Linked DNA regions of Homo sapiens: all the other regions are linked to region 2. Evidence: fine-mapped expression QTL. A gene starts in region 2. Each other region holds a variant in brackets. All regions are shown on one strand. Distances are from middle to middle.

Region 1 (8,186 bases), 32 kb before region 2:
ATTTTTAGTAGTATTTAAGTAGTATTTTCACCATGTTGGCCAGGTTGGTCTTGAACTCCTGGCCTCACATGATCCCCCTGCCTCGGCCTCCCAAAGTGCTAGGATTACAGGCATGAGACACAACACCCAACCTATGGTATCTTAATTGTGATGATGTTATATGGGTGGACACATGTCAAAACATCAAACTGTATACTTTATATGCAGTGTATCATATTTCATTATACCTCAAAGTAAAGCTGTTTAAAAATCATAGTACCAATCACTGGAGAAGTTGTAGAACAGATAACTGATACACTACTAGTAGCAATATAATTTGGTAGCAATTTTAGAAAACAATTTGGCAGTACCTAATCTCATTTCTAGGTATATTCTCCATAAAAATATACATATGTATGTACCAAATTTTTTTTTTATTTTTTCACAGATAGTGTCTCACTTTGTCACTCAGGCTGGGGAGTACAGTGGCACAATCATAGCTCATTGCAGTCTCAAACTCATGAACTCAAAGTGATCCTCCTGCCTCAGCCACTCAAGTAACTGGGACTATAGGCTCATGCCACTGCACCTGGCTATTTTTTTTTTTAATTTTTTGTAGAGACAGGATCTCACTTGTTGGCCAGGCTGATTTTGAACTCCTGGCTTCAACCAATCCTCCTCCCTTGGCCTCCCAAAGTACTGGGATTACAGGCATGAGCCACCATGTCCAACTGTATCCACCAAAATATTTCTGAAATGGCCCCAAAGCATAAGCTATCAAGAGCAGAATGGAAACATGGCACATTCTTACTATAGAATACTATGTGCCAATAAAAAAGAATTAAACATTACTATGCCCAAAAACATGAATGAATCTCAGACACATGTTAACAAAAAGAAGCCAGATACAACAGAATATGTTCTATATCATTCTATTTATAAACAGTTAAAACTAATCTCTGTCAGTATCTCAAAATCACGGTTAACTTTGGAAGGTGATAATGACTAGGAAAGTACACATGGTAATCTGGACAGCAAGTATAATGCTCTGGATGGTGGCTATAGAGTTGGGTTCACTTTGTAAAGTTACATTGACCTTTACACTTAAGAATTTTCTATTCCACCATATGTGTATTATACTTAAATTTTTTAAGTTTAAAGAATAATTTCTGTTCAACAACAAAAAACTATATGCAAAATTAAAGGACAAATCCTAACAACACAGCCAACAAAGAATTATCACATTATATAAAGAATGCTTACAAATCAGTAATAATTTTAAAATCCAACCCAATGGAGAAAAAAATGACAAAGAATATAAACTGGCAATTTACCCCAAAATCTTCCAATGACTTAAGCCTAGTCCCTAGATCATTCCTCTATTTACACTCTCTCCTTGGTGATCTCATTTAGGTTTATGGCTGCTAAACACCATCTATTCATTGACTGACATCCAGACCTCTCCCCTATTTCAGATTTGTATATCCAACTGCCTACCTGAAATCTCCAAGTGGATGTCTCACAGGCAGCTCAAACTTAACAAATCCAAATTTGACTATAACTTTGTCTCAGACTTGCTCCTCCTCCAGCTGTCCACAGGTCAGTAAATGGCAACTCCATTTTTATAATTCCAAATCTTGTAGTCATCCAAAAGCTCATATCTTCTCAATACCACATATCCAATACTGCAGCAAATCCTGTTAGCTTTATCTTCAAAATACATCCAGAACCTGACCGCTTCTCATCATTTCCACTGCTATCACCCTGGTTTAAATCACCATAATGTCTTATTTGGATTACTACGATAATCACGTAATAAGGCTTCTGCAACATATCAGGCTCCCTCAACACATGCCCTTAACTCCTCTGTTCAAAACCTCCCTGTGAGTTTTATTCCACCCAGTCTAAGAGCAAACACTCATTATAATTGCTTTCAAGGCTCTACAAGATCTCTACCCACCCCACCTCCTGCCCCATCCCTAGCATCTTTTGACCTTGTCTTCTGCTACTTTGCCCTTGATGACTGTGCTGCAGTTACATTGGTCTTATTGTGTTTAAGTCTAGGCATGATCCTGCCATGGGGGTTTTCAACTAACATTTATATATACCTGGAATGCTCATCCCCCAGCCAACCATAGTAAGACTCATGCCTTCACCTTCTTCGGCAATTTGTTCAAATGTTGTATTATCTTCTCTGACCACCCAATTTAAAACAGTGCCACTCTCTCACTCCTAGCCCTCTTTGTTCTTCCCTGCCTGTCTTCCCTAGCATTCATCATCATTTTACTTACTTATTTCTCATATATTTTACTTGTTTATTGTGTTATTTCCTCTGACAAGGATCAAGTTGCACGAGGGCGGAAATTTTATCCATTACGCTACTGGATTCCTAGTACCCTAGAACAGTGCTTGGCACATTGTAGACATTCATTTGTTGAATGAATAAGAAACTCAAATGTCCAATAAATAAAAAATGCTCAAATCCACTAGTAATTACGAAGTATAAAATAAAAACAAGGTACTATTTCACACTCAACAAACATTATCAACTTTTGGTAAGGATGTAGAGAATGATACAAGCTGTCAGCACTGGAGTCAGTATATATTCACACCAAGTACTATGGAATGTCATCAGGCAATATCAAGAATGGGTATTAAAAAGACAATCCTAAGATTCAACAATTCTACTTCTAATGTGAAAAAAAATTTGGGAATGCTCAAGGTGGCATGTTTGTAAAAGTAAATAATTGGAAATAGCTAAACATCCATCAATAAGTGAATAGCTAAGTAAAATATGGGATATTTATATGATGAAAATCATTCATCAGTTAAAAGAATAAATCTGTGTTTCAACATGGACAGATCTAGAAAGCAAAATGTACAATGAAAAATGTAGCAGAATGTTAAATATAGGATATCATTTATACAAAGGAAAAATAAAACCATATACACAAAATAAAACTATCTTATTTATACATATAAATATATAAAAACAAAAACAGACTGGATATACACCAACTAATTCTTGATAGTAGTTACCTCTACTGGATTAGGGAATACAGCATAAGGGATTTTAAATTTATCTGTGATGTTTCTTGTTCCTTAAAACATATGGCAAAAAATGTTAATATTTATTTACTTGGAATGGAGGATTATTTATTTGAAATGGAGGATATGTATGTGGGTGTTTATTATCTTTTATTTTCCTATATTAAATTTTGTCTTCAATAAATAAAATTGCTAACTTATACTGAGTCATTAGCAATTATGGTACATAAATACAAATCTTTTTTTTTTTTTTTTTGAGACAGAGTCTCACTCTTGTCACCCAGGTTAGAGTGCAACGGTGTGATCTCAGCTCACTGCAACCTCCGCCTCCCAGGTTCAAGCAATTCTCCTGCCTCAGCCTCTCAGGTAGCTGGGATTATAGGCACCCGCCACCACACCCGGCTAATTTTTGTATTTTTAGTAGAGATGGGGTTTCACCATGTTGGCCAGGCTAGTCCTAAACTCCTGGCCTCAGGTGATCTGCCCACTTCAGCCTCCCAAAGTGCTGGGATTACAGGCATGAGCCACCATGCCCGGCTCATAAATACAAACCTAATCAAATGGGAATGTAAAGGAATTTCTGAAATATCTCATTCCCAACTACTGATTATGTCTAGTCATTTTATACTACACAATTTGAGGCCATTTATATATTGTTTATGCTGGTTTCTGTGTAGAACAAATAAGGAAAAGTTAACAGAAAAAAAATCTACGAAATTTAACAGGCTAATAACTTTTATCATTCAAAATGTAACATCCAGACTCAATCACTATTTAAAAAGATTTAGGAGTTCAAGCCCCTTCTTCCATAGTAATCAGGAAAAATTGATCCATAAACCCTGTTAGCTGAACAATCTTGTAAATTTCTACTTTTTAAAAGATTTACTATGGATGATACATTCTAGAAATTTAAGGATAAATCAGCCAAGAAGAGGCAAAGCTATTATGAAATTTAGGATAAAGAAAAACTTTTTCTTCCTTTTAAAAATATATTAGTTAAAACTTTAATGGGTTCGAAAATGTTTTACCAAAATCATAAAAAATTGATTCTTGATATCAATGAGAATATTTTCTTAATATTACCAAAATAAAACTTGCCTTAATGTGCTGTTAATTGCTCCCAGTTTATTAGCTTGCTCACAA[T/A]CTTCTAATTCTTTGGTATTGTTTGCCATTTTCAAGTACTGCAAAGAAGTTCGTAAGTTTAGTAAAAATTATTACCTTATTCTTTATTTCAGTTTCTATTGGCAGAATAATCAATCTGTCAACAATGATATACACTAAATATACATACATTCCATTATAAAAATCCCTATCATATGTAAGAAATACAAATGAAAATGAGGCAGAAATTTCCACCAACTAAATATTATTTCCATCAACAACATATTAAAATTTAACAATTAGGCTGGGTGCAGTGGCTCACGTCTGTAATCAGCACTTTGGGAGGCCAAGGCGGGCGGATCACTTGAGGTCAGGAGTTCAAGACCAGCCTGGTCAACATGGTGAAACCCCGTCTCTACTAAAAATACAAAAATTATCCAAGTGTGGTGGCACACGCCTGTAATCCCAGCTACTCGGGAGAGGCTGAGGCAGGAGAATTGCTTGAACCTGGGAGGTAGAGGTTGAAGTGAGCTGAGATCACGCCACTGCACTCCAGCCTGCATGACAGAGCAAGACTCTGTCTCAAAAAAATAAATAAAAATTCAAAAGTAAAAGTTAACAATTAGCACTGATGTGTTGGTGATATCAACTGAAAAAACAACCCTCTTGGGAAGTAAATTTGACCATATATATATATATATATATATATATATATATATATATATATATATCAAACGTGTGTGTGCAAACATATATATATATATGGTCAAATTTAGTTCTAAAGAGGGTTTTTATATAAAAGTTATATATACACACACATATATATATACATACGTACATATATATACACACACACACATACACACACACGTTTGCAAAATGCTTAAACCTTTGAACCTGCAGTCCCACTAGTGAGACCACATCCCAGGGCAACCATTTTTTTAAAAAGGTACAACTGCCTTGGAAAATTATTTGGTATTATTTCTAATGTTGAGATAGGCATGCCTTATGGTTCAGCAATCCTGCCTTTACAGGTAGACCTAGAGAAACTCTTACATGTGTGCACAATGAGACAAAGGACAAAAATGCTAGTGCATTACTGTTTGAAATAGCCAAAAATTGGGAACAACTGAAATGTCCATCAATAGAGGAATGGCTAATATGTGTTATAGTCATACAACTGACTACAGCTATTAAGATGATGAGCAAAATCCACATATACCAACAGAGAAAATTTCAAAAGTGTAAGACTGAGTAAAAGCACAAACTGAAAAAAAGTTTGTAACCTAAAGAAATAGAAAAATATTATTAATATTATTTAAATTAAAAAAAATTTACACACAATAAATTACATATTACTTGTGGATACACATGCAATAAAAGTGTAAAATATATTACTTGTAGATACACCTGCAATAAGAATATAAAATCACAGGATACTTCAGAAAAATGGTTAGCTCTGGGAGGAAGGAATTAGAACGAACTGGGAAATGGCTGAGGGGGTTTCAACTGCTTTTATATGGTTTTATTTATTTCAGATCTGAAGCAAAAATAAATACAATAAAGTAAAAACAAAAGATTACACGGGAGAGAGAGCAAGAAGAAAACGCAAAGGAGGCACAAGAAGGAGACAGAGAGAGAGGGTATGATGATCTTTATTATGGATGCGCAGTAGTGAAAAACAGGAAATAAACGGTTCTCTAAAAACATATCAATGGCAAAATATAATACTCTCATAAAAGGACAAGAACAATAATTAAAAATGAATATCTTAATACCATCTGAAAGTACTCTGCTCAAAATATCTTGATAATTATTTACTCTATACAATATAATTCTGAACCTGCCAGGCTAACTAGTTGAAACAGAAGACTAAAAATAGCTATGTGATAAAACACCTGCTGACTAGGGGATCTGACACTATAGTTACATTTAATAGTTGTTCCAGAGATTCCAAAAACAGTACTGAAGCAATTTCAAAAGAATCTAGAAATGTACAATCTATCTGCTTGACGCAAGAGTTAGGGATTTGGAATTCTGAGGCAAAATGTCTCCATTCCCAACTAACCATAATATGGTTCTTTACTACAGCCACTGTCAGTCAGTAAATGGTAAGTTTCACAATGTAAAGCAGAAACACTCAAGGAAGAGGAGGGACTTACCTTATTAGAATGCCCAGCTTTTATTCCAACCGGAATTTTACTCTTAAAAAAACAAGAAAAGCAAAAAAATTTTTAAGTGATCTTTATTTTTTTTGGAATTTCTTCACGAATTGTCAATGCATTGCTCTATTTCATCAAGCATTTTACTCTATGAGGGGCAAATATACACTCACTCAAATTGTGTTTTCACACTATCTCATAAAGTAAAAGTGTTATCCCAATATACAGACTTATAAATCAAAGTATAGAAAACTGAATGACATACACAAAGTAAGAAAGCCAAAAGCAGCTCTAATAACTATTGCAGTATTTTTTATAGTTTATATAATTTAGGTTGAAAACACTGACAATCACTTCCTTCCACAAACTTTGTTACCATAGAAAAGAAAGTTTTGAAAGTTCAAAATTATTTGCAATGTATTATGTGCAATTTTAACTTCTGCTCTAACAAAGTGTAGGCAATTTTGGATTACTAGAAAGCTTTTTTTGGCCCACACGATTAACCTAGAGTTTACCAATCTAATCTAGGGTTTACCAATGGGAGAAGTGCATGTAGCTGGAACATTCTTTTTCACAAGGCCAATAATTAGTGTTAGGCTTTAATAAATGTATCTGAATTATTACAACCAGTTTATCAAACAGAACTTTAAACGAAATACTTAATACATATTTTATTCTTAAAGGAAACTGAATATTATAAATTTTTAAAGAATGTTCCCTTTAGGAAGGACATTGGTACAGATTTTTAAGGACAACAAACTAGACTAACTGATTAGGTAAGAAAAGCAGAAAGTGAAAGGAAAACAAAGCTTACAACTAATTACTGTTGAAGAAGAGGAATATAATTAATTATGTTAGATAACAAAAATCAAAGTCTAAAATGTAGCATTCTCTTGGTATTAAGTATAGGTTTTTTTTTAAATGTAAATGTAACAAGGCCAAGTGAAAATCTAATTCTAAGCCTGAAATTTCCCCAATTAAATCACTATAAATTTGAAATATAGGGTCCAGTAGCTTGTTTTTATTTTGTTTTTTTTTTCCTATGAAACAAGATGCTGATTCAATAAAGCATGAAATAAAAGACAACTGCAGATCCAATCCTAGAACAGGCCTCTGATTTTCCTTCCATTTTAGAATAAGACTATATTTCCATATTTGATCACCAGTATCACTGGATACAAGTGTCTTCAAACCCATTTTGGTGTCAAGTATAGAATCTTCAATAATCTGGTTCTAAAGGAGAGAGCTGAGAGCATATGAATTTGCTGACACATCCAAATCCATTGACATTAGCCTGAAATAAAATAGAGGTTATGCTTTTCTAAAAGTCCAAGAGAAAATTGGCTTTGCCCTGTTATTTTATTTATTATACCTCTGGACAGGGCTCCACATGACAGTCTTTTATTGAACAGTGGCCATCTTCTGCCCAGAAAGGACAAGGTCGCTTCAGATTAACCTTGAAAGAAAGAACAAAGTTAGTAAACTCATATTATAGTTATGGGGTGCTCTCAAAGTGTCATTGTGTTGGGCACCAGTGACATGGTGGTGAATAAGAAGGAATACTTCCTATCCTCGTGGCACCTATAAGGTTCAGAATTTAAAATGACAGCAATGAGCTAGATCATGCCATTGCACTCCAGACTGGGTGACAGAGAAAGCATTTAGAACTACTTGAATGTCTTCCAGCCTCCTAATGTTATCTTATTAATGAGAATTCTCTCATGCACCCATTTATTCAACAAATAAGAACTGAGCATCCACTATGTGTCAGGCACTGGGTAGGCTATGGGGGGAAAATGGACAGAAAAAGAACTCCCCTATCCCTCTGGAACTTAAAAATCTATTGAAGGAAACAAATTAAATATTTGTAAGTTTAGTACGAGTTGTAGTCAGTGC
Region 2 (8,186 bases):
TCAGAACCTAAGGTCATTATGTGTTTGTTTCTGTTGTCTAATATCTGATTCATGGTGCCCTGTTTCCTTGGGTGTTTTGTGATATTTTACTGCTAGCTGTTTATTCTCCTTGGCACTTCATCTTCAATAATTTTTCGAGGTTTGAGTTGAAAATAAATTCCTCCAGAGGTGATGGATATTTGCTTTTATTGGAAACCCAGGGCACACAAATTTGGGACTGCTATGAATTTTCCCAGAATAAATATTTGGCTTGCGAACCTGTGTGAGGACTGTCTCATGGTTACAAATTCTCAAAAGTTTCTTCCCTGCTTCTCCCAGCAAGTTTCTTTTATTCCCTTTACTTAGAATGGGTTTCATTTCTCGTTTACCCTTATACTGAGGATGTAATTGTTTGAAGTCCAGGCTCCAAACAGCTACATCCTCAATATAAGGGTAAACGAGAAATGAATTATGGTGGAGGCTCCTATTAGTTTCCTCTCACTGGGCAGACACGGGGTTATTTCTTGCCCACTCCACTCCATGCAACTGCTAAAGCAGCTCAAGATCTTTAGGGTTTAGGAGAAGCCCTCAGAGTAACGGACTGGTATAGCACTATTTAAGTTCTAAGTTTCTGGCTTTTCATATATTGAGGGGCTCTGTGTATTACTCAATTTTATGCCACCTCAGAAATGCATTTAGAAAAACTTACATATATCTAATTGAAATTACTTTTTAAAGGAAGATTGTTATATCACTTGTATGCACTATGCCTTTAGTTTCCAGTGCTTCACCAAAGTATATTTACATTTCATTTATACGATAATGGGGCATGAGATATACAAACACGTATCATTTTGTGTGTTCAAAAATATTTTTCTGCTTTTATTTTGGAAGGGGATAACATTTAAAATATGTATCTCCTTTAATGACTTTGATTTCTTGTGAACAGAGGTAGTTTTCAAAAATTCTAATTCTTCCCTTTATCAGTTTTCTACCAATTTATTATATGGATGAAGTCAAAGAACTGGCTGAATTCCACTTTTTGATTTTCCTATTTTCCATCTCTTTTTCTATACTAGAGAGAACTGAAAATACCAACATACTGTATAGACCAGAAAGGGTTCCACATTAGGGCTCCACTGTAAAGTCACTCATTCAATTAAGACATTTAAGTTCTTTGAACTTCAATTACCTCAATGGTCCCACTTCGGAGAGATTGTACGTGTAACCATGTTATAGATTAAAGTACTATCTAAAAGATGATCAGGCCAGGCACGGTGGCTCACGCCTGTAATCCCAGCACTTTGGGAGGCCAAGGCGGGTGGATTACCTATGGTCAGGAGTTCGAGACCAGCCTGGCCAACATGGTGAAACCTCATCTCTACTAAAAAATACAAAATTAGCCGTGTGTGGTGGCACACACCTATAGTCCCAGTTACTCGGGAGGCTGAGACAGAAGAATCACTTGAACCCAGGAGGTGGAGGCTGCACTGAGCCAAGATGGCGCCACCGCACTCCAGTCTGGGTGACACAGAGCGAGACTCCATCTCAAAAAAAAAAAAAAAACAGCACAGTAGAAAGTACTGCTGGCGGCCTGGGCGCGGTGGCTCACGCCTGTAATCCCAGCACTTTGGGAGGCCGAGGCAGGCGGATCACCTTAGGTCAGGAGTTCAAGACCAGCTCGGCCAACATGGCAAAACCCTGTCTACTGGGAAAAAAAAAAAAAACACACACACAAAAATTAGCCAGGCGCGGTGGCAAGCACCTGTAATCCCAGCTACTTGGGAAGCTGAGGCAGACAGAATTGCTTGAACCTGTGAGGCAGAGGTTGCAGTGAGCCAACACATGCCATTGCATCCAGCCTGGCCAACAGAGTGAGACACTATCTCAAAAAAAAAAAAAAAAAGAAAGTAAGTACTGCTGGCAACAAAAACCAAATATATTCACTTGGAAGACTGTTTGGCACAATGCTACTTCAAATATTCACAAATCTTTAACTGTTGGACTATATTTATATTCATTTGGATATAATGAAATTAAAAGTACAGGGGCAGGCCAGGTACAGTGGCTCACACCTGTAATCCCAGCACCTGGGAAGCCAAAGTAAGAGGCTCGCTGGAGGCCAGGAGTTGAAGATCAGCCTAATAACATAGTCCCCATCTCTACACAAGAATTTTAAAAATACAGGTGAAATTATAAAACATTAATTACACATAATTAGTGGTAAATGAAAAAAATTTAAAATGAAGTTTCTAGACAGATAAGCATAAATTAATATGTGCTATATAAAAAGAGAAAATGGGAACTCTCATTTCAGAAAAATATCGAATTGTAAATTTCACTCAGAAACACTCAACTAGTGACTAGAAAATAATTTTGCCAAAGACAATTTGGAAAATTTACTTTAGTAAGTCTGCCCAGATTACCACTATCTATTCCATCTCAGTGTTTTCCAAGTGAGGTCCAAGAGGTAGTCAAAAGATAACTTTGCTACAGTTATACTGTACTTGCAATGTTTGTTTAAAATGCTGATATCTGGGCCATATTCCAGATCCAATCAATACATGTGGAGGTAGGGCCAGAGAATCTGCATTTTAACATGTTCCCCAATACCAAAAATTTGCCCCTTTTATTTTTATGGTTCAAACACAGACACAAACGGACTATTCAGGCACTCTGGGATTTAGTGCAGGGCACCATAAAACCATGAAATAAAGTGACTCAATTCAGAAAAACATGTTTTCACGGTTACACTCAGAGTCACCTTCAATTTTTCTTGGATGAGCACTAATTGCTTCAAATGACATCTCCCCTCATCATCAGGCCACCTGAGACCTTCGTTTTATTTTTTTGGCCCTCAGCAGTGCTGCCTCCTTGCAGCAGGTGCAGACAACAAGCAGCAGCACCTGGCAATCAATTCAAATTCTACTGAATAGAAGCAAACACCTCTCTGAAGGCGAAAGGATCTGGTCAGCTAAGCCTCAGATTTCTAGCACACTGAGAACACTTGTAATCATCGCTTCACATCAACAACCAGCCAGCACCTCACGACTGCCAGAGCCAGAGCCTCCATCCACGAGCCACAACGCCCCACTCAGACCCCCCCAGTCTCGTATTGGGACTTACCTGGCGATGCCACTTGGCAGACACAGCTCAGCTGGGTAAAAATAAAGCAATCTTGAGCAAGGGAAGGTGCTCGAGGAAGAGTAAAAGCCCAGAAAGCTCTAGTCCGACAGTTCGAGTGAAGTCTTGCCCCCTCCCAATCCCCTGCGCCTGGCGGGGCCTCGGGGGTCTGCGGAGTGCCCCCAACTCTCAGTCTCCCTCCCTCACTAACTCCTGAAGGGAAGGACGTCACCGTTTCTCTGGGCGCTCGCTCCCTTCGCAAGACAGCCGAGGTGGTTCATGCCCGTCCCATCTCCCGCCACACTCCCAGCCGCTTAACACATCCGAGAGGAAAAAACGAAAACAGCTCAGGGGGACCGTCACCATCTTCCTCTTTTGACTGCCATTACCCGGAGTGTCGCCGTCCCCCCACCCTGCGGGCGGTTCGCAGATGTTTCCCGCACTGGACGGTCAGGTCTCTGCTCCCCGGGTTTTCTGCTCGCCAGAAATCACCTCTTTTCTGGCCCGGCCCTGCCCGGCCCTCCCCGCGTCACAGCCGCGGCCCGTGTGTAGCGGCCGCGGGTGTTCGGCCGGGGGTTCCCGGCCCGCTATCACTCGGGCTTACCTGCGCCTCGACGACGCTCCGCAGGAAGCTCAGGGTGACCAGCAGCTGCACCGCGGCCGCTACCCCCTGCCCAGCGCCTGCCCGGCGGACCCCTTGGCTCATGCTGACCTCTACCCACACCGCGGCCAGCCGGACCCCTCGGGGCCGGGGAACGACGGGCGGCCCAGGCGACGACCCAAGGGGACGGTTCCCAGCGGCCGAGCGACTCCAGGGTCAGAGGTCTGCACTCCAGTCCGGAGGCAGGCGACTCTTTCCCCAACACCCGGCAGCTGCGAGTGAGGCAGGAAAGGCGAGCGCCCCCACTTCATCCCCCAGGCGGCCCCGCCCCCGGCTCGCTTGGCTCCTCGGCCACGCCCCCAAGCGCGGGGCCTTGTGGGAGTTGTGGTCCTGGGCGGTCGCCTAGGCGCCGCGGCAGGAAGGCGGAGCCGCTGAACGAGAGGACTCGGGAACTACAACTGCGAAGGCCGCCCCGCCTCCCCGAGGCCTCGGGCTCCGCGGCGGCCAATGAGGCGGGACCACGCGGGCCTCCAAAACACCGGGGGGTGCGGGCGGGGGAAGCGGGGCGACCTCTTCTCCGGGAAACCAGGCTGAGGACCTCTCTGCGTCGGTCCCTGCTGTCGCTCCTGGAGTCCTCGCAGACGCCAGGCTCTAGGATTCACCCAGTACGCGGGCGAGTTAGGAACGGACGGTGCGGGATCTTTGACTTTCGGTCTGAAGCGTATTCTTTGTCTCATTCATTTTTCTGTAGCCTCACATCTGCTGTGGGTGCCTATGTAAGCTACCTGTGACTTGTAGAGATGGCTTCGGCTCTTTTTTAATTTCATGCACCCTAGATGTGGATGTCATCTCCTGCCCCGCCCCAGCCCGACTCCTAGGTTGACACGTGCGAGTATAACGCATGCTAAAGAATGAAGACAAACCCAAAGGCTTATGATGAAATATGGGGATGGGGTAAAACAAAAAAAAACTTAGAGTGACATAGATTGGGCGCAGATCCCAACTCTAAAACATTCTAGCTAGTTATTGGGCCTTAATTCCCACCTCATATCTTGTTCTAGGGCTACATAAGATTAGATACAGAAAGAGCTGAGTATAGTGCCTAGCACCTAGGAAGCACTCAATAAATGGTAACTGCTATTAGTTTTATTAATGCCTTTGATTTCTACAAAACGAGTAATACATCTCCCTTGTGTTTATGTAGCGTGTATTAGTTTCTCATTGATGCTGTAAGAAACTATCACACATTTAGTTGCATACAACAAAAGAAATTCATTACCTTATAGTACTGGAGATCAGGTGTCCAAAATGGACCTGTAGGGCTGTGTTCCTTTTGGAGGCTCTCAGGGACAATGTGTTTCCTTACCTTTTCCAGCTTCCAGAGGCCACCTGCATTCCTTACCTCATGACTTCACATCTCCTTCACTCTCTCTGCTTCCCTCGTCACATGCCTTCTCTTGTGACCCTAACTCTTCTGTCTCTCTTGTATAAGGACCCTTGTGATTACATTGGTTACAGACCATCCTATCTCAAAATCCTCAACTTGATCACATCTGCACAGTCCCTTTTGCCATATAGGATAACATATTCACAGGTTCCAGAGATTAGGATGAGGATTTATAAATAGAGGGTCATTAATCAGCCTACCACATAGTGGTTTATACCTTTCAGAACCAGCAGAGCATTAAACCAAATGCAGGGTCCTGGGGTGGCTGACTGCATAGGTCACATGCCCATGAAGCCAGTCCTGCCTGTCCTTTTCCCCTCCAGCAACTCTTTCCCTTCTGCCTCCAAACTGTCCAGATCTTCCCTAGCTTAAAAGCAAAAAGAAATTGGCTGGGTGTGGTGGCTCACACCTGTAATCCCAGCACTTTGGGAGGCTGAGGCGAGCAGATCACCTGAGGTCAGGAATTTGAGACCAGCCTGACCAACGTGGAGAAACCCTGTCTCTACTAAAAATACAAAATTAGCCGGGCAAGGTAGCACATGCCTGTAATCTCAGCTACTTGGGAGGCTGAGACAGGAGAATCGCTTGAACTCAGGAGGCGGAGGTTGCGGTGAGCTGAGATCACGCCATTGCACTCCAGCCTGGGCAACAAGAGCGAAACTCTGTCTCAAAAAAAAAAAAAAAAAAATTGTTGCTTGATTTTTCCAGCTACTTTTCCATGTCTCCTTTTCTCTTCCAAACCTATACTTCCTATCTGCTCACTGCCTTCTTCCCTTCATATAAATGTGCTTTTGATAAGAGAAACTTTTTATCAAGTTTGGTAGACTTTTTAAAAGATTCCTTGTCTGTGCTGTATTTGAGGTTGTCAATAACACATACTTCCTGGAATTTTGTTATGCAAAACTTCTTTTTTTAAATTGTGGGTTATAAATTTTCCTATTATAAAATCTCGGGTTCTTTAAGGACTCTCTCTAGTGCCTGGATATCAAAGGCAGAATTCATGGCTTTCCAGAGGCTTGAAATATTTGTTATTAAAGAACAAAGGAAGAAAGTGGGTTCGGGGGTGGAGTAAAAAAAAGAGAGAGAGACAAAGTGGACAGGGAACTTTAATGCAGACAGGGGTCAGATAGCTTTTGTCCTCTTAGTTACCTAATCCAGAAAGTCACAGTAACAAACCTCCCCGTTTGCTTTTGTTTTCAGCTCAGAAGCCTTACACATAACTTCTAGGGACAAATGAGATTTTTCTTGGTGAGTGAAATTGGAAATAGCAGGTGTTTGTCATGAAATAGGGGCATACCAAGACTCACTTAAAGTGGTGTCTGTCATGATCTGTTTTAGTGTTCATTGTTAAGAGTGGTATGACGGGGTTGTTTCTTTGTGAACAGGCAGCCCTCCTCTTTGTTCTCTCATTCTGACTGATTTACCTCTGCTTTCCCTAAAATCAGCTACACTGAAACCAGCATTGTGAGAGGCCCTGGGGATGTGCTATCACCCATGCTTCCTGCAGATGATGTTCAGTTAGAACCTTCCCATTCCTAAGGCTGTGGTTAGAAGTTGAAACAGGAAGAAAGTGCATACACTAAACCCCTTTGATTGCACGCCACAAAAATCAGCTCTAGCTCTAATTTTTTTTGAAATAGCAAATGAAAAAAATGTCAAATTGCTTACAGTACTGAGGCAGATTTCACCACACACCTTTAGAAAGGTAAGTCCATCAGGACAGAATTCAGGGACTCTAAATTAGAGTACAACTCATGATTGAACAGTCTCTTCTAGGGCATTGCCATTATACTTATCAATTCCCATCGCTTTTAGTCTTCTGTCCCTCCTATCAAAATTCACATTCTTTCTGGAGGTTAGCTTGCAGGTAGAATGTGAGCACCTTGATTCACAGTCCTACAGACCACAAGAAATGAGCCAGAGGTAGTTGCACAAACTACTACTTTCTTTTTCTTTTCTTTTTTCTTTTTTTTTTGAAACAGAGTCTCACTCTGTCACCCAGGCTGGAGTGCAGTGGTGCCATCTCACTGCAACTTCCACCTCCCAGATTCAAGCGATTCTCATGCCTCAGCCTCCAGGGTAGCTGGGATTACAGAAGTGTGTCACCACACCTGGCTAATTTTTGTATTTTTAGAAGAGATGGGGTTTCACCATGTTGGCCAGGTTGGCCTCAAACAACTTTCTATTTTTAATAGAGGGGAAAGGGATGCTGGTCAGAGAAAGGCAACAGATGTCTCCTTCAGGATGCTGAGTTTTTATTGAGTACTCCATTTGAATTCACTTCCTTTACCTCAGCTTGTATTCACACATTCATTAAATTATCACAGATGTCTTTCCACGCCGCCCCCCAGTGGATATATTTTTATTCAGCCATTTAGTTTACAACATGAGGTAAAAGGAAAAAGTTCTCCCTGACCAGTATTTTACACAGTTGTAGTGTAAAACATTTTGGACTTCAGGGATTTATAAGGGATTACATTTCTGAAAAGTTGGGATCAGTTTAAACAAGTTTTTTTTTGTTTTTTTTTTTCTCGAGACGGAGTCTTGCTCTGTCACCCAGGCTGGAGTGCAATGGCGCAATCTTGGCTAACTGCAACCTCCGCCTCCTGGGTTCAAGTGATTCTCCCATCTCAGCCTCCCGAGTAGCTGGGATTATAGGCACGCACCACCATGCCCAGCTAATTTGTTGTATTTTTAGTAGAGATCTCAAACAAGTTTTAACTCTGAATTTTCCAGGTGACTCTTCCCTTCCAATAGTAACAAACTCTAGTTAGTTACGTAAGTTTCTTTAAGGCCAAGTTTTATCACTGTTGCTGATATCCTTAGAGCTGAAGCACTGCTATTTCAATCAGTATCCACTAATTCCACTTCAGAAACGAACTTTGTATTTAGTGGAATTTTGGCTTCAGGCTGCCCTTTCTTTGCATAAGCCCATTCTGCTTCACTCTTCAATCGAGGCTTTTCTCCTTTACCCAGTCAACAGTGCTTCATCCCATCCTGTGATAACTTTGCCTACTCTGACCTTAAAACTTAAAG
Region 3 (8,186 bases), 64 kb before region 2:
TACATACTGAGCAGTCAGGTGTGTGGCGTGCACCTATAAGCCAGGCTATTCGGGAGGTTAAGGCTGGAGGATCACTTGAGCCCACGAGTTTGAGGCTACGGTGAACTATGATCATACCACTGCACTCCAGCCTGGGTGATAACGTGGGACCCTGTCTCTTTTTTAAGGAAAATAAAAGAATGTACACATTGATATAAATTTTCATCTACCAGAATGGCCAGAATCCAACATTTTAATAACATCTACATTGGTAATGTTGCAGGTTAGCAAGTACTATCATAAATTTTAGATGGTATGTGAATTGATGACTACCCCTATGAAGGACAATATGCCAATATCTTTCAAAATTATAAATGCACACAGTCTTTGCCCCCAAAATTCTTATCTTTGGGAATTTATTCTACAGGTACAATATTTATATAAATGTGAAATGACATATGTACAAGGTCTGGAAACAACCCAGCTGCCCATTAATAGAGGACGGGTTAATTCAACACTGGCACATTCACATAACAGAATACCAAGTATCTACTTCAAAAAATGAGAAAACTATCTAGTCATATGTGAAGACTGCCAAGAAATACTAGGTGAAAAAAATGAAGTCGTATGTATATGATGTCAATTTTTGAGTAAAAATGAGAGAAAAAATAAGACTTTCCATTTGTATATGTTTGTACCTGTCTACAACAGTGTGAATGGAAACCTAAGAAACCAAGAGCACAGGCTATTCATGGTGGGAGATGAGTGTGCAGTGGAGGAAGCTGGGCCAAGGACACAGGAACACATTCACTGAATAACTTTTTATATTGTTTGTTTCTTTTAACCATGTGAATGTATTACCTATTCAAAAAATTAAATAAGATAAGCATATTTTATAAGCTTTATGATTCAATACAAATCAAACAATGCTTTTAATTGTTCCCACTTTGTAGCTGAATGGAAATAGGCCAACTTACAAAATGTCACAAAGGTTCTAGAATCAGTCTTTCTCGTCTCAAATTCTTGCTCCACAACCTAGAATTTGTGACTATGGACAGGTTACTTAGCCTTTTTTATCCTCAGTCTTCTTACTTATAAAACAGAGAAGTAATTGTACCTACCTACTAGTGCTATTGTGAAGATTAACGGTGTATTCTTTTAAAGCCAAACTATGCATGTAAAAGCCCTTAATACAATGCCAGCCAATGCTTGCCATTATGATAAGAAACAACCTCAGACTACTTATAAATACATTTTCTCCCTTCTCCACAGGTTACAATCAAATTCTCATGCCATAAAAAGAAACACTTAAAATAGCGGGGAAAAACAAGACAGAAAAGATTGCAGAAACATGTACTTTAATTCACATTTTCTAGATTCTGGTGGGTACAACAGTAAATTATTTGGAATTCTGTTCAAAATCAAAGCTGCACCTGTAGATATTCCTTAAAATACAGTACACATAGATTTGTGTGTGTGTTTTTTTACCAAATAATTTCCACGATACCATGCACCTAATCTGTGTATTTTGGTGAGTAGCTATGGTTTCTGCAGGTACCTCAGTTTGCAAACTACTGAGAGGTTTACTGTGAACTGTTCCCAAATTTTCAGCTGAAGGCAATGCTGATGAAGATCAAAATAGCTGTCCTTTCTTATATACAGTGGCACATAGGCAAAGTTGAAAAACATGGCAGAGTTTCATATACATACAGAGATTACAAATATCGAATAATTCACAATGTTAAAAATGTCAAAATAAAACGTTTTGACTTATCAAATTTCAAAAGTGTGGAGTCTTATTCTGTCTGATCCTCCTCATAATCTAAGAATCAAAACAGGAGAAACATTCAAAGTTTACCAATTTTAATATATAGTTTGTCTAACTTACATAGATGCCACTTAAGTAAAAAATAAACTTACGCCATTGAAGGAAGGAATATTTTCCTTTTCTTCATTTTCATTACTTCATCAGTGGGTACAATCATTTCTGTCAGTTATATTATCAAGTGCTGGGTTTTTAAATTAGGTGATGAGATAAAGACAAAATGCCAGAGCACCAGCAAAGCATTTTTACAATGCAAACAGTACTCTAGTATAATATCACTTCACGACAAAAGATGTGAATTGGAAAAACAGTTTAGATCACAAGAACCATAAAATGTCACCAGGCTCACACAATCATTTAAGAAATAAAAACACATACACAAAAATGTAGGCTGCCCCTACAATCTAATTTATGATAAAATAAGATGAATTTCAGCCTAAGAATACTTCATTTATTTTCTTAGTTGTGAAAAAATTAGTTAAGAACCTTAAAAAGAACTTTTTACTCTAACCAGATCTTTTAATTTCCTAGAACATACTCTAATATACTAGTTTTCCTAAGCTTGAAACAAATCACAGTACAGAAAAAAACAATAAATGGACATGAGCGAGGATTTTCTCCAGTAAACAGTTTAAATAATAGCCTTTAACTGAGGGAGTGGTGAAATAACACTATCAAAAAGTTCTTTACATTTAGAGTGATAAACAAAGTGCAGATTTTTCACATCTTAAACTCTGAGTGAATACTAAGAATAATTCTTACTAATTTACTAGTTAAATTAATTGGATAGTCACTTTTTAGACAGTTTGCCTTAAGGCCCCCCTCCCCCACCATACAATACTTGCAACCCTCAAGAAAAAGTAGAGGAGGCTCCAATCAAGTCAGCCTTTTAAACAACTTAACAAAAAATACTACCACCATCAACAACAAAACCCCAAGTTTATAAAGGTTTGAAATTAGGTGAGAAAATAAATAACTCTGAGACCTTAATACCCCCACCACATCCCACCAAGAGATGGCTAAGTATTTTTAAGAGGGGTGAGCCAAGCCAACTAAATACAATTTTTTAGATGTCACCAAATCATCAATGAACACATTTCAGACTTTGACAGGATAAAATATGGATTTAAGAGCACTTATTCTTTAATTCAGAAAAGACTAAAGAGTCTAAGGAAAAACTCTAGATCTTGTACCTGCATTACTTCTACACAGATGCAATCTTCCAAATTGTATCTGCTGACATTTAAAAAAAATCAAGATTTTAAATATTGTCTAAAGATTTTAAATCCCAGATTTAGAAAATGACAGTTTAGGACTGTTGGTATGAATCACAGAAAGTCCTCTGTTGGTATGAATCACAGAAAGTACCGTTTATATACAGTGAAAAGAAAAGGTGAGGGGAGAGTAAGCTTAAAGGAGGGTTGACCTAATCTACCTTTTTATATATCCTGTCAGGGAAAAGCACACTGAGTTCGAGGATTGCATAGATTGTATTCTAAAATAAATCCTTTAAAAATGCTTACTTTAAGTGAAAATAGCAAATTTTGTGTATATAATATTTT[C/T]AATTGGCATTATAAATTCATATAATCCCATTTAAATTTTATCAAGAAGTAATCTGTTAAATATTTCTGCAGTGTTTTCTTTCTAAAAGTAACTGACAATTTCCAAAATGTCTTTGTCCCTAAAATTTCTAGGGGCAGAGAAAAGCAAAATCAAAAGGAGTTCTAAGTAAAAGAACACTCTTGGGCCAGCCCATTACACACACAAAATCTGGCTGGGTAGCATAGGGGAGAGGTCTTGTTCACCTTTACCAAAGGAGGTCCTTTAGACTGGAAACAGCAACAATTACAGCAACTAAAAACTGCAAATAAAAACCAATGAAATTGAAGTCCTGGGGAATCTTCAGGAATTTCTGTAACTATGCATTGAAAGGGCCATTCATCATGGTGACAGTTCCAGATTCTAGAAATATTATAGTATTTCTTTATATTATAGAAAGTGACACACACACAGTGAGGCAAGGGTAAAAACACATTAAAAAGCATTGATAAATTTTTCTCACTGACACCAGCCCTGAGCAACATTTGTTCCCTAGTTCTCCTTTTCCATAACAGACTGAACAGTGTTATTAGAATGCAGACATAGCCATTTAAAGTTTGACAACTGGAAATAAAGGATAATAGAATAAAAACAAAACCAATTCTAAAAAAAATAGAATTTTCATTACATGAAAACATATGAAATTAAACACAAAATTAGTATAACTTACATGTTTTAAAAGTATATACTTCATTTATAAATATCTCTAGTTGATAATAATCTATTAAGAATCATAAATATTCAAGTGAGCATTTAAATTTTCTATTTAATAGTTCAGAATTCTTGAAGTCAGATTAGTGTCTTTCTGATGAATGTCCATAATTAAAAGGCTTTCCACAGTCACTTTATGTCTCTAGTTAGACACATAAAAGCCTTTATTACCTACTGTGTTGTAATAAGACTTTAAAATTCTGTAAGTCTCTTATACTTGTAGAAAGCCTATGGAAGAAAGAAAAAGCTTATTAGTAAGGCTAACATGTTGCATACTGTTTCAAATTATTGATATTGTTACATAAGCTATAATTTGAAAGCAAAACCTAAAATAAAAAACCTCAAACACTGAAGCTTCCATGTTTAAATTAGTGTTCTCATTAAGACTGGTTTAGAAGGGGCAAAGGAAGCCTGTTACTTCATACTATCTACAGACATTAGATTAATAATGGGAACAGTGATATGAATAATTCTTAATAAAGAATCTCAAATCATTTACAATTGGTCTAATAAATTTATTTTGCACATTCCTCTTCAAATGATTGCTCTTTACTCAATGTTCCCCAAACACACTAATTTGTCTTATGTTGTTAGCTCCCTAAGGGTAAAGACTCTATTTCATCTCCTGCTGAGTCTCTCTCCTGTGCCCCATACCCATTGATGCTTATAGTATTCAGTAAATGATTACTGACTGACTAAATGAAGTGCTTCTCAGCCCAGGCCAAAAAGTAAAACTCTGGGATGGGAAATATAAAAAAGTAATTCTAAAAGCTCAAGTATCCCTATGTACAATTCAGGGGTGATAGAAGAAAAATCTTTAACTATTTGATAGAAGAAAAATTATTCCTTAATCACTTAGGAGGACAGGCAATGTTCTAAGCCCATCACATATATGATCTCATTATCAGGAAACAAACTAGGAAAGCAGTGATTTGCCTGAGTTCATACCACTACTAAAGGGCAGGCCAGGATTCCAGAACTTTAGGACCCCTGATTCTGAGTCCATTACTCTAGGGAACAATAAAAGGTAATAAGCTCTAGATATAGAACTAAAACAAGAAAGGCTGCATTTGTGAATATTTTTTATGAGATCGAAGGAAATTTTCAATTGTTTTGAAATTCTCAATTGTTTTCATCTTTCTCAATTTAATTTGGACTTAAGAGATGCTTAAGTTATTTACAATATTTTTCATTTCAATTTATTTAAATTTCATTCAGTATCTCCTGTGTTATCTTTCTACAGGCCTCATAAGTGGATGGACTGAATTTTTTATGAAATACCAGTTAATGGATAGTCTATATCTATCCTGTGTCTGAAATCTCAACCTACATAGTCATCTTTAAATACAGGGAAGCAACAGCTGAAATCCTTGTTATTAAGATGGGAAATGGCCAGGTACAGTGGCTCATGCCTGTAATCCCAGCACTTTGGGAGGCCAAGACAGGAGAATCACTTGAAGCCAGGTGTTTGAGACCAGACTGGACAACAAAGTGAGACCCCCATCTCTACAAAAAAAATTTTTTAATTAGCCAGGCAAAATAGCATGTGTCCGTAGTCCCAGCTACTTGGGAAGCTCAAGTGGAAGGAACGCCTGACCCCAGGATTTGGATGCTGCAGTGAGCCATGATTGTGCCACTGCATTCCAGCCTGGATGACAGAGCGAGACCCTCATCTCTTTTAAAAAAAAAAAAAAAAAAAAAAAAAGCAGGGGACATATAATAAATCTGTTTTTAATTTAACTGCTTCTTTTTAACTTAAAACACATGTTAAGAAAACCAAGAAATAATCTTTGTATTACTTAGTCCCCTATTTTTTTTTTTTTAATTCTTCCTCAAGTTGACTTTTTTCTCTTTTTCCCCAAGGAAGCATAGTATTATTTTCTGTGATTCTTTTCCTTCTGTTCTGTATTCCTCAGTTGGCATTACATGTATCTCTGCTGGCAAATTCAAATTATTTTTTAAACCACTGGTGATATAAACAAGCAAGCAAATTATATGTCTCTATACAGAAGTAAATCATGTAGAAATGAGTGAAAGAAAAATGACCTCTGAGCTTCAGAAATAAAGAGCATAGTGCAGGAAAAAGGTGAGAAAAGAAAAAAATAGTAATGAAAATTTAAGAAAAATAAGGAGCAGATGAAGGTTTTAATTTTCTTTTATCACCTTCTCAATCACACATTCCTTACTCCTGCTATTGTAGTTGAACAAGTTATAGCCAAGCAAAAAGAATATTAGAAGAATATCTCCCTTACAAAATTAAGGCAGCAAACTGAAAAACACTGGCAATTGGAAACTTAGTTTTTCCTATGACCTGTAGAGAAACTGACTTGTCAGCATTAAGGCCTCTCTAAGTTAGTACAGATACAATATAAAATTTTTTTTTGTCAACAAAACAAACCCTACTTTTAGCAAAGAAGATTATCTTTGCAGTTTGTTGAAACCCAATGGGAAATCAAAAATCTTCAACATATAATGGTTCTTACCTTCCAAAAGCATTTAAAAGAGCAACTATTTCCTGTCGGGTGAGTTGGAAGCCTTTAGATGGACTATTCTCTGGAAGCTTTTGGATTTCTTTTTCAGAGAATAATATCTTCAGGGCAGTTCCTAAACCCTGAGTCTAAAGAAAATAGCAATAAACTCATAATTAACTTTAAATAATAATAACTAGTAAAAAGGCTTAAAGGAATATATAGCCACTGTTATGCCAGTTAGGAAATTCATATGAACTGAGCTTTTCACAAAAATATTACTACAGTTTCTACTTTCTCACAGGTTATGCATATAATAAACACATCTGAGCAGTTAAGGAAACCTGAATAGTCTTAACACTTATTGAATACATATCATACTATTCCAAATTATTAAAATGACTTTTTTAACCTTGAAAATACCATATTAGGATTACAATGTTCAATTTGTAACCATAAAGGACTTTTTACAGCTTTTAGCAATTCAAAACTCAGAGATTATTGATACCCACACTTAATAATTTCTCAATTATTAGCACTATAGAAAAAGACATTTTATTTCAGTATAGCCTCCACTGTAATAATTTTGTCTCTTAATTTTCTATAAGTTACCATCTTTGTTAGAAAGAGATAAAATATTCAACAATCCTTTTGACACTGGCTTACACAGAGTAATGGACCTGTCTTGCGGAGCTTTCCTGTTTTGACTAAGTGACCTTCTTTTGCTCATTTATACAAATTCAATGACCAAGACTTCATATTTCAATCTTTTTATGTAATTACATTTTACCTTTCTATATACATATGTAAAATACGGATATACTCGGTTCGTAATGACCACCAACTTCACAAATGAATCTGGTATTGTATCAATAGAAACATAGACACAATAAAACTAAAATCACTAAAGAATAATATGAGAAACATCCTTTCACATACATGTAACACATATACTTTAATTTTTTCATCAACAGAAAAAACACCTTGGATCTGCCTATTCCTAAATTCTAATTCAATGAACAATGAGGACATTTTAATAAAAAGCTTGGACTCAGTGGAAAAAATAAAGGTTAGTAATGGCTTCAAAAGAGAAGACAACACATATACCTGTAATTTTCCCCATAATCTGCATTTGTCACATCCAACACAGTCCATTATACGGGAGATATTCTTGAAATGTAATCGGAATTCCTCCTAGCAAGCAGAAAATATTTTCAGTCTAATTAGACTTTTAAAATTGAACCGCATTTGGCTAAACGATAAGTAAGTTTTGATGCTTATTAATAAATCAGTTGTGTTTTTTGTTTGTTTGAGAAGGAGTTTTGCTTTGTCGCCCAGGCTGGAGTGCAGTGGTGCCATCTCGGCTTAGTGCAACCTCCACCTCCCAGGTTCAAGGGATTCTCCTGTCTCCTCAGCCTCCCAAGTAGCTTAGATTATAGGCGCATGCCGCCATGCCCAGCTAATTTTTGTATTTTTAGTAGAGACGGGGTTTCGCCATGTTGTCCAGGCTGGTCTTGAACTCCTGGCCTCAAATGATCTGCCCACCTCGACCTCCCAAAGTGCTGGGATTACGGTGTAAGCCACCATACCCAACCCGAGTTGTG

What was found. PIP is the estimated chance that this variant, and not a neighbour inherited with it, causes the effect.
Region 1: its variant is the best candidate, but not a certain one, in a credible set for the expression of ERO1B in whole blood (TOPMed, PIP 0.85).
Region 3: its variant is the best candidate, but not a certain one, in a credible set for the expression of ERO1B in monocytes after LPS (Fairfax 2014, PIP 0.64).

The regions. Positions count from the first base shown.
Region 1 is chr1:236,245,760-236,253,945 of GRCh38, forward strand. It overlaps ERO1B (endoplasmic reticulum oxidoreductase 1 beta), which reads right to left. Exons shown (of 16, transcript NM_019891.4): 3 at 7,663-7,746; 4 at 6,291-6,332; 5 at 4,126-4,208. It overlaps LOC124904562 (a long non-coding RNA gene), which reads left to right and starts at 77. Exons shown (of 2, transcript XR_007066962.1): 1 at 77-1,578; 2 at 5,667-5,908. The variant T/A (reference allele first, on the strand shown) is at 4,171.
Region 2 is chr1:236,277,976-236,286,161 of GRCh38, forward strand. ERO1B (endoplasmic reticulum oxidoreductase 1 beta) reads right to left here and starts at 3,983. Exons shown (of 16, transcript NM_019891.4): 1 at 3,707-3,983. The coding sequence starts at 3,808. It also overlaps the pseudogene LOC100130485. RefSeq lists enhancers at 3,378-3,577, 6,162-6,311 and silencers at 3,648-3,697, 3,738-4,327.
Region 3 is chr1:236,214,235-236,222,420 of GRCh38, forward strand. ERO1B (endoplasmic reticulum oxidoreductase 1 beta) reads right to left here. Exons shown (of 16, transcript NM_019891.4): 14 at 7,690-7,776; 15 at 6,598-6,731; 16 at 867-4,342. The coding sequence ends at 4,282. LOC124904561 (a long non-coding RNA gene) reads left to right here and starts at 6,728. Exons shown (of 2, transcript XR_007066961.1): 1 at 6,728-7,651. The variant C/T (reference allele first, on the strand shown) is at 3,367.